2 linked regions of the Homo sapiens genome follow. The protein of the gene in region 2 purifies or fractionates together with the protein of the main gene of each other region. This does not show direct contact. Each region holds a gene or a part of one and is shown on either strand. Other genes may lie near its edges.

Region 1 (3,500 bases), on a different chromosome or scaffold from region 2:
TCAAAAGCAATCCTTTCCTATTAAAGTTTAATCTTTTTAAAAAATATTCTTGGCTACTAGCCTTTTATAACCTCCACCCCACCCAATATATTTGACATAGAAAATACTGAAAATTTTCCACAACTCTGGCTGGTCTTCTACAGAATATTTTTTGTCAAGACCAAGTACCTAATTTTTTTTCCCTTTTAAATAGACTTTATTAGAGCAGTTTTAGTTTCACAGCAAAACTGAGGGGAAGGTGCAGAGATTTCCCACATACTCCTTGCCACCACAAATGCATAGCCTCACCCCACCATCAACATCCTGCACCAGAGTGGTACATTTGTTACAACTGATGAACCCACATGAACACATCGTTATCACCAAGAGTCCACAGTTTACATTAGGATTTTCTTTTGGCATGGTACATTCTATGGGTTTTGACAAATGTATGGCATATAACCCAATTATAGTATTACACAGACTCTAATTTTTTGGTAGTCTAAAGATATCTTTAAACTTATAAAACTAAACAAAAATAAAAATGTTCAGTCACTGGATAACTTCAAGCATAAAGGTGGTCTTAATTGTTGGTAACAAAAGAGTAAGTTGAAAACACACCTACTATTTATATGCAATTTTTTCATATGTGGCAACATTCCCCACCAGGAAAATGTCCACATTAAGGAACAAGTCACTAATCAGTAACAGAACATAGAGCTCTGAATATCAAAGTAGTATTCTGTTAAGAAATGTTCTGTCTTGATGAAACTTTTAAAAACAGATGCACAATATTTGTATTATTTCTCAAAACTATTTTCAAAAAGCAAATCTACAGATCAAATTTTAACATCATAAGGAACTACTTGTAAGCATGTGTGTACAAGTTTCACATTTTACCTTTCTGTAGGAATCTTCTATCGTTGGGTCATATTTTTCAACAAAAATTCCCTGAACAAACTGAACTGTCTGGGGGAAAAAAAAAGAGAAATATTAAAAAATTAAAGGAAAACTCCTTTGAATGTTACTTAACCTACAAATTATAATGATTAATTGAAATTATGTGAAAATTCTGGGTAAACACGTAAATGTAAAGTATATTATTAATTCTTTCAATATAAGGATACATCCATAACTAAGAGTACATTTATTATGAAAGGAGGTAGTCATGTTAAAAACTGTCATCAATACTGATAATACACTGTTAATTACATTAAGTCTTAATATACAAGGATACAAATAACATATCTGAACTAATTAAAACATGAAAAATTATCAATATTTAAACTCCTATTGCCCCTTTATATATCTATAGTAACTTTTATCCCATGCCCTCTGCCCTTAATGGAGTGACAAAGGTTCTAATTTTTTTTTAAACACAGGGTCTTTGCTATGTTGCCTGGGCTGGCCTTGAACTCCTGAACTCAAGAGATCCTCCCGCCTCAGCCTCCCAGGTAGCTGGACCTCAAGCAGCATCTTGTAAATTTGTTAAAGCCTTTCTAAATTGTGGTGGAAAAGAGAAAGGGAAATTTAAACTTACTGAATGTCTATTATGTTCCAGACATTAAGCTAGTCACTTTTAATTTATAACCACATTCAAATTTCACATTTGTCCCAGAAATAGTTATTCTTCCTATTTGCCAGCTGAGATTCAAACATACATCTTCCTGATTCCAAAGCCTTACTTTTTCCATTGGAAAATATTGCCCATTCATCTTTTTCAGATATTATCAACTTTTAAAGGCATCCAAAAGCACATACTAGAAAATACGTATTTATCATTCAGTAAGTGAAAAAAGTACAGAAGACGGTTTTAAGATATTTCCTAGGTAACTTTAAAACAGGGTCTGGTACATTATTGCCTAAAAAGCAAGGGTAAGAATGTGGACTGAGGTCATCTACACTTAAATTACTCAGAGGAATATTTGATATACTATTTTAGCTTGAGCTAAAGAGATTAACTCAAATATAGTAAACAAACTTCTTTCTCCTACTAAGCTTCTATTATTCAAAGGCAACTCAAGATATAATCACACCAAAAACCTTAATCATGATTTTTATCAAGGATTTAATCACCTCATCTTCTAAGTACGACACATAATTTAAATATACAAAGCAGTCTACGCTGGATGCAGTGGCTCATGCTGTACTCCTAGCACTTTAGGAGGCCAAGGCAGGAGGATTGCTTGAGCTCAGGAATTTGAAACCAACCTGGGCAACATAGTGAGACTGTCTCTACAAAAAATTTAAAAATTTAACCAGGTGTGGTGGCATGCACCTGTAGTCCCAGCTACTTGGGTAGCTAAGGTGGGAGGATTGCTTAAGTGTAGGAGGTTGAAGATGCAGTGAGCCATGATCACGCCACTGCACTCCAGGGCAAGATGCTGATTCAAGATTTAAAAAAAAAAAAAAGGCAGTCTAATACAGCTTCCTAATATGCTTTAGGCTAGAGCAGAGAGTCTCAAAATATGGTCCAAGGCAGAGGCTCCCTAAGGTCAAACTATCTTCCTAACAATACTAAGATGTATTCTAAGAGGTACTCTTCTTCTTCTCTCATAAGTTTACAGTGGAATCTTCCAAAGGGTATAGAACATGTGCTATTGAAAGAGACTGGATACAGAAGCAGGCAAAAGAGCCCATGTGCCTTCTATAAGCCAGACATTAATAAGACTTGCAAAAATGCAAAACAATCCAACGTTTCTCATTTCTTTCTTACTAAAAGTAATGTTTGACTACTCCTCTGAATCTTATCCTCTGTCTTAATTTTCAGGGACATCTCATTCATTCATTCACATAGATTATAATTTTATTCCTCAGGTTTTTGTACTGGATCATCTCCTCTTTCCCTCTCCTGTATCCTTATTTTCCTCTCCAGTGGAGAGGAATTGCCCCCAGCATACAAATATGCTTTACTATCTCCAATTCTAAAACAAAAACAAAAACCTCCCTTAACCCCAATATCTCTCCAGCTTCTGCCCCCATTCTCTGTCCCCTCTCATAATCAAGCTTCTTCAAATGTCTATATTCCATTTCCTCAGCTCTCATTTAATCTTCAACCCACCCCATTATGGTTATGGCAACATGACCTGACTAAAGCTGCTTCCTTTATCATGTCCAACTGCCTCTATGCTCTCTGATCATCTCTTTCCTCTTTTTTACTTGACTTTTGAGGAATCAAGTAAAGACACCTTCTTCTATGCTAGATCCTCCAATCCTATCTACTTTCTAAAGGTTGAGAGGTACTCAGAGCTCAGTCCTGGGCTCTGCTCTTCTCTCTCTAGTATCTCCCTAGACCTCTTTCACTCCTATGGACTTTTTCCAAAATTATTTTTGAAAAGGTAATTCATGGACATAGGACTAAATTCAAAAAGGCACAAAAGGCTATGCAGTGATAACTAAGCTTATCTACCACCCTTGTTCCCAGCTATCCAATCCTACTCCCAAGAAAGTAACTGATGTTATTCATAGCTTATTTAACCTTGAAGAGATACTCTATGATTTTACAGGTATCTACCCTCAGC
Region 2 (3,962 bases):
TTTTAAGTGCGGGCCCTCTGTGACTTCACAGATCGCACGCCCGTGAAGCCAGCCCTGCCCAGAGTCCCTTTTCATTCACTGGGTCCTCCTCCCTCGCGTCACAGTCCTGGGGTGCGGGGATGCTGGCGTTGCTGTCACACTGCCGAGCTTTAGGTCAAACTCTCAGCACCGCGACTAGTTACCCTGAAATCACTGGGGCCCGGTATTACAAAACAGAACACACTTTCCTCTTTCTTCCCCTTTATTTAAAAGAGATGATAGGCTTTACGAGTTATTTTTAATAGAAATTTTTTACAATGAAAAGAATTCGGGCGTACTGTTTGCAAACTGCAGCAGACAGGTCTGAGCGCCCCAGAAGGCGGCCGGCCCCAGCCTGGGAGCCTGCGGGGACCACTCCCTGCTGCCCTGGCGCATGTCCTCCAGGGACACGGGCCACCGTTGCCCCTGGAAACCCTGGGGGACAGGCTCCCTCCTGGGCGACCTTTCCACGTTTCTTTCGCCCCCCCCGGAGCGGCACCTCCATACCTCCCGGGCCGCTAGTCCCCCGAAGCAGGCCCCAGCCCCGGCGCAAGCTGCCTCCTCCGCAGTCCCCGCCCGCCGCCAGCCCGGCCACCGCCGGACGGCGCCCTTCCCAGCCCCGCGCCCCGCTCCCCAGCCCTCCTCGCGCGTCCGAGCCCACGTCGCTTGCCCCGGCTGCCAAGTCTTCCAGACGGCCGGGCCCTCCCGGCACAGCGCGGGAACCCCGGCCCCCGGCCCCACGGGACGAGGGCTACAGGGCCCGGCCGGCGAGCCAGGGCACCCCGGGGTCTCCAGGCGGCCCACCGCCCTCACCCCCCACCGGCGTCCCCAAGCCCCCAGACCGTCCCCGCCGCGCCCTCAGCGCCGCCGCCCCCGGGCCGGCCGAGGCTCCGCGGCGAGTCCCGCCCAGCGCCCCGGAGGCGCCAGCCCCACGGCCCGAGCGTGCGCAGCGCCCCCCGCGGCCGCGCCAAGCGCAGGCGACGGCACAGGAAAGGAGGCCGCGGCGCGCCCGGCCCGGCCCCCTCCCCAGCCCGCCCCCGGGGCCGCTGGCGGTGTCCGCGCCTCCGCGCCCGCCCCTGATTTCCTCCGGGCGGCGGCGGCGGCGGCGGCGCCTCGTGCGCGCGGTTATTTATTTCCGGGCCCCAGAGCGCTTATAATGGAGCCGCTGTCAGCAGAACCTTCTGCCGCCGCCGCCGCCGCCGCCGTCCCTCCTCTTTTTTTTCCCGGCAGATCTTTGTTGTGTGGGAGGGCAGCAGGGATGGACTTGAGCTTGCGGATCCCCTGCTAGAGCAGCCGCGCTCGGAGAAGGCGCCGCAGCCGCGAGGAGGAGCCGCCGCCGCCGCGCCCGAGGCCCCGCCGCCCGCGGCCTCTGTCGGCCCGCGCCCCGCTCGCCCCGTCGCCCCGTCGCCCCTCGCCTCCCCGCAGAGTCCCCTCGCGGCAGCAGATGTGTGTGGGGTCAGCCCACGGCGGGGACTATGGTGAAATTCCCGGCGCTCACGCACTACTGGCCCCTGATCCGGTTCTTGGTGCCCCTGGGCATCACCAACATAGCCATCGACTTCGGGGAGCAGGTAAGCCCCGGCCCCGCGCCCCACGCCCGCTCGCCCTGCCTTGGCCTTACACGCCCGGACACGGGGGCGGAGGGGAGTCACCTGCTCCGAGTCCCTCTTTATCCTGAAACATTTGGTCGGGTGTGCAGCTTGTCAAGGGTGACTTTTCCAGCACCCCATTCCCTCCCTCCCTCCCCTCAATTATTCAGCAGACTTTTCCAGCCCTCTCTGGAAAATGTTAAAAAGACTGGATGGTGTGAAGCTTCACCTATGGAAGGGTTTTTAGTGCACGGCAGTATTATGTAATTTGCGATTATGTAAACCTCAGCTCTAATTAAAATGTAGTTTCTAGTAGCTTAAGTGCTGGGTTTTTATTTACCCATGGCTGGTGGTAATGGTGACGGTGGGGAGATTCTGTTTTATAATGCGTCCAAGTTGATTTCCCAGGTACTTCCATTTTTAAACATTTGTTTCGTAGTCCAGGTAAGGATTAGGGGTATCCCGAATGTGTCCTGATAAGCCGGTCTTGACCATTTATTTCTAGTTTGGGATTTCTTTTTTTTCCTTTTCCTTTTCTTTTTTTTTCTTTCTTTCTTTCTTTCTTTTTTTTTTTTCATGGACCACTAAAGAAGGGGAGCACATTTTTGTTTGGGGTCGCCTTCTCGTCCTTGTTTCTTTTCACGTTTTCTCCATGTGGCGTCATTGAAAATCTAGCGCTGCAAGCTCTCCAGCGATGGGGCATTGGCACCCTGCACTTTGCATGTGGGGACCGTTTTGGCAGGGCCACCAGCGGGATGCAGCTGCGTTCTAAGGCCGGGGAGAGGATTTGGTGATGGGGAGGCAGTGACATGCCACCCTGATGGGCAGGTGTCCCAAGTGGCCAGAGCGTGTGACGAGCGGCACTCCTGTATTGTGGTACTGTCTTTCTTCTTTCCTTTTAAGTCAAGAGACTTAAACGGATATTTATCTAGAATATGCACCTATTTTGATGCAGTACTCATTGTAAAAGTAAAACAGCTTTCAGGAGGCAGTTACAAATCGGAGATTTGTGTGACTCCTTCGTTTGACGAATATCTGTTTGGATTTGTCTTTCTGTGCTCAAAACTTTTGAATAATTGCAACTCTGTAAGCTCTCTAATATGTAGCCCACATTGTAAGCTACTTTTTACTTTGAATTTTGTTGGTGATAGGTGTTCACAATATGGCATATTCTCTAGAGACCTTTGTTTACCGCGCCAGCCAATGTCCTTTGATAAAATCTTGTCTCTTCCGTTGCCACTGTGCCCTGCCAGTGCCTCACAAGGGTACCCCAAGGGCTTCTTCCCTGCTCCACCCTGTACCCGCCCACCTTCCCTTCTTTCTATAGTAACTGGTGACTTTGAACACTTCCTACAATCCGTAGAAAAGCTTTTAGACACGAATTTACTACATTGCCCATTTTAGATGAGTCAAATGCTGTATATTCACTCGAGCCTTTCCTATTTTAAGGCTTACCTTCTTGGAGCTGCCCCAAAGGTTGTCAGAAAGCCCAGGCTGCTCATCTGAACTGGTGTGTGTTTGTGTGCATGTAAGAATCATATCGAGATAACTAGTGGAAATAAGAGTAGTCTGTGTCATCATTAAACCACCTGACGCATACCACAATATTGCCTCCCTTTTGCCTTGATTTAATGAAAGGCTGACATAACTAGGTTTGATTTTAGTATAAGAAAAAGAATCTCCTGAAGTCACAAAAGGGAGGTTAAACATAAGAGACAACTATCCAGATGGTTTATCCTCGCAGGTCTAATAATTCTAACTCATCCTTAAAACATTGCTAACCTGATTATCATGGCTGATGTAAGCAAAGTACTTAATGGAGTTGTGTTTTTGCAGAGAAGCAAAATGTTATCAACAAGTGTCATTTGAGGTCCTTTTCCCAAAAACACCAGAGTATGAGGTTATAGGCTGCCTGGAGGGCGGAGATATTTTATCACAGAGTTAAGGGTGGAGAAATGGGGAGAAGAAATTGATAGGTTTTCCAAACCTTGCTTTGCCTTCTGGTGTCAGATGATAATTGTTTTTGCAAAATGCTGCAGGGTGAGAGAGAGTGAGACTGACTTACTCTTTTCAGCATTAAACTGGAGGGAAAGAATTACAGTGGGAGCTGAAGAGTGACCTGGTATGTGTGGGTGATGAATAGAAGAACACTTTACCCCAATTCTTCTGAAGCACAGTAAAGAGGAGGAGAAATGAACCAGTTTGCAAAAGTGGGTCTACGTTAGCTGAAAATATGCAGCCCTTGAGTTTATATGGAGTTCTAGACAGATGGACACATGTAGGTACTGCCGCTGAGTGGGCAGGTGTATTACACCTTGCTGGGAGTGAATGATGGCTTATTTGTCAGCGATTTAC

Evidence for each region.
Region 1: the proteins of ANKH (region 2) and RAP1A purify together in Homo sapiens (affinity purification with mass spectrometry; one large-scale study listed by BioGRID and IntAct). This does not show direct contact.

What each region holds. Positions count from the first base shown.
Region 1 is NC_000001.11:111,692,789-111,696,288, reverse strand, and holds part of RAP1A (ras-related protein Rap-1A precursor), read right to left. Parts: intron 949-3,500; coding exon 880-948; intron 1-879. UniProt on the Homo sapiens protein: Counteracts the mitogenic function of Ras, at least partly because it can interact with Ras GAPs and RAF in a competitive manner. Together with ITGB1BP1, regulates KRIT1 localization to microtubules and membranes.
Region 2 is NC_000005.10:14,868,979-14,872,940, reverse strand, and holds the start of ANKH (mineralization regulator ANKH), read left to right. Parts: upstream 1-1,162; 5' UTR 1,163-1,493; coding exon 1,494-1,589; intron 1,590-3,962. UniProt on the Homo sapiens protein: Transports adenosine triphosphate (ATP) and possibly other nucleoside triphosphates (NTPs) from cytosol to the extracellular space. Mainly regulates their levels locally in peripheral tissues while playing a minor systemic role.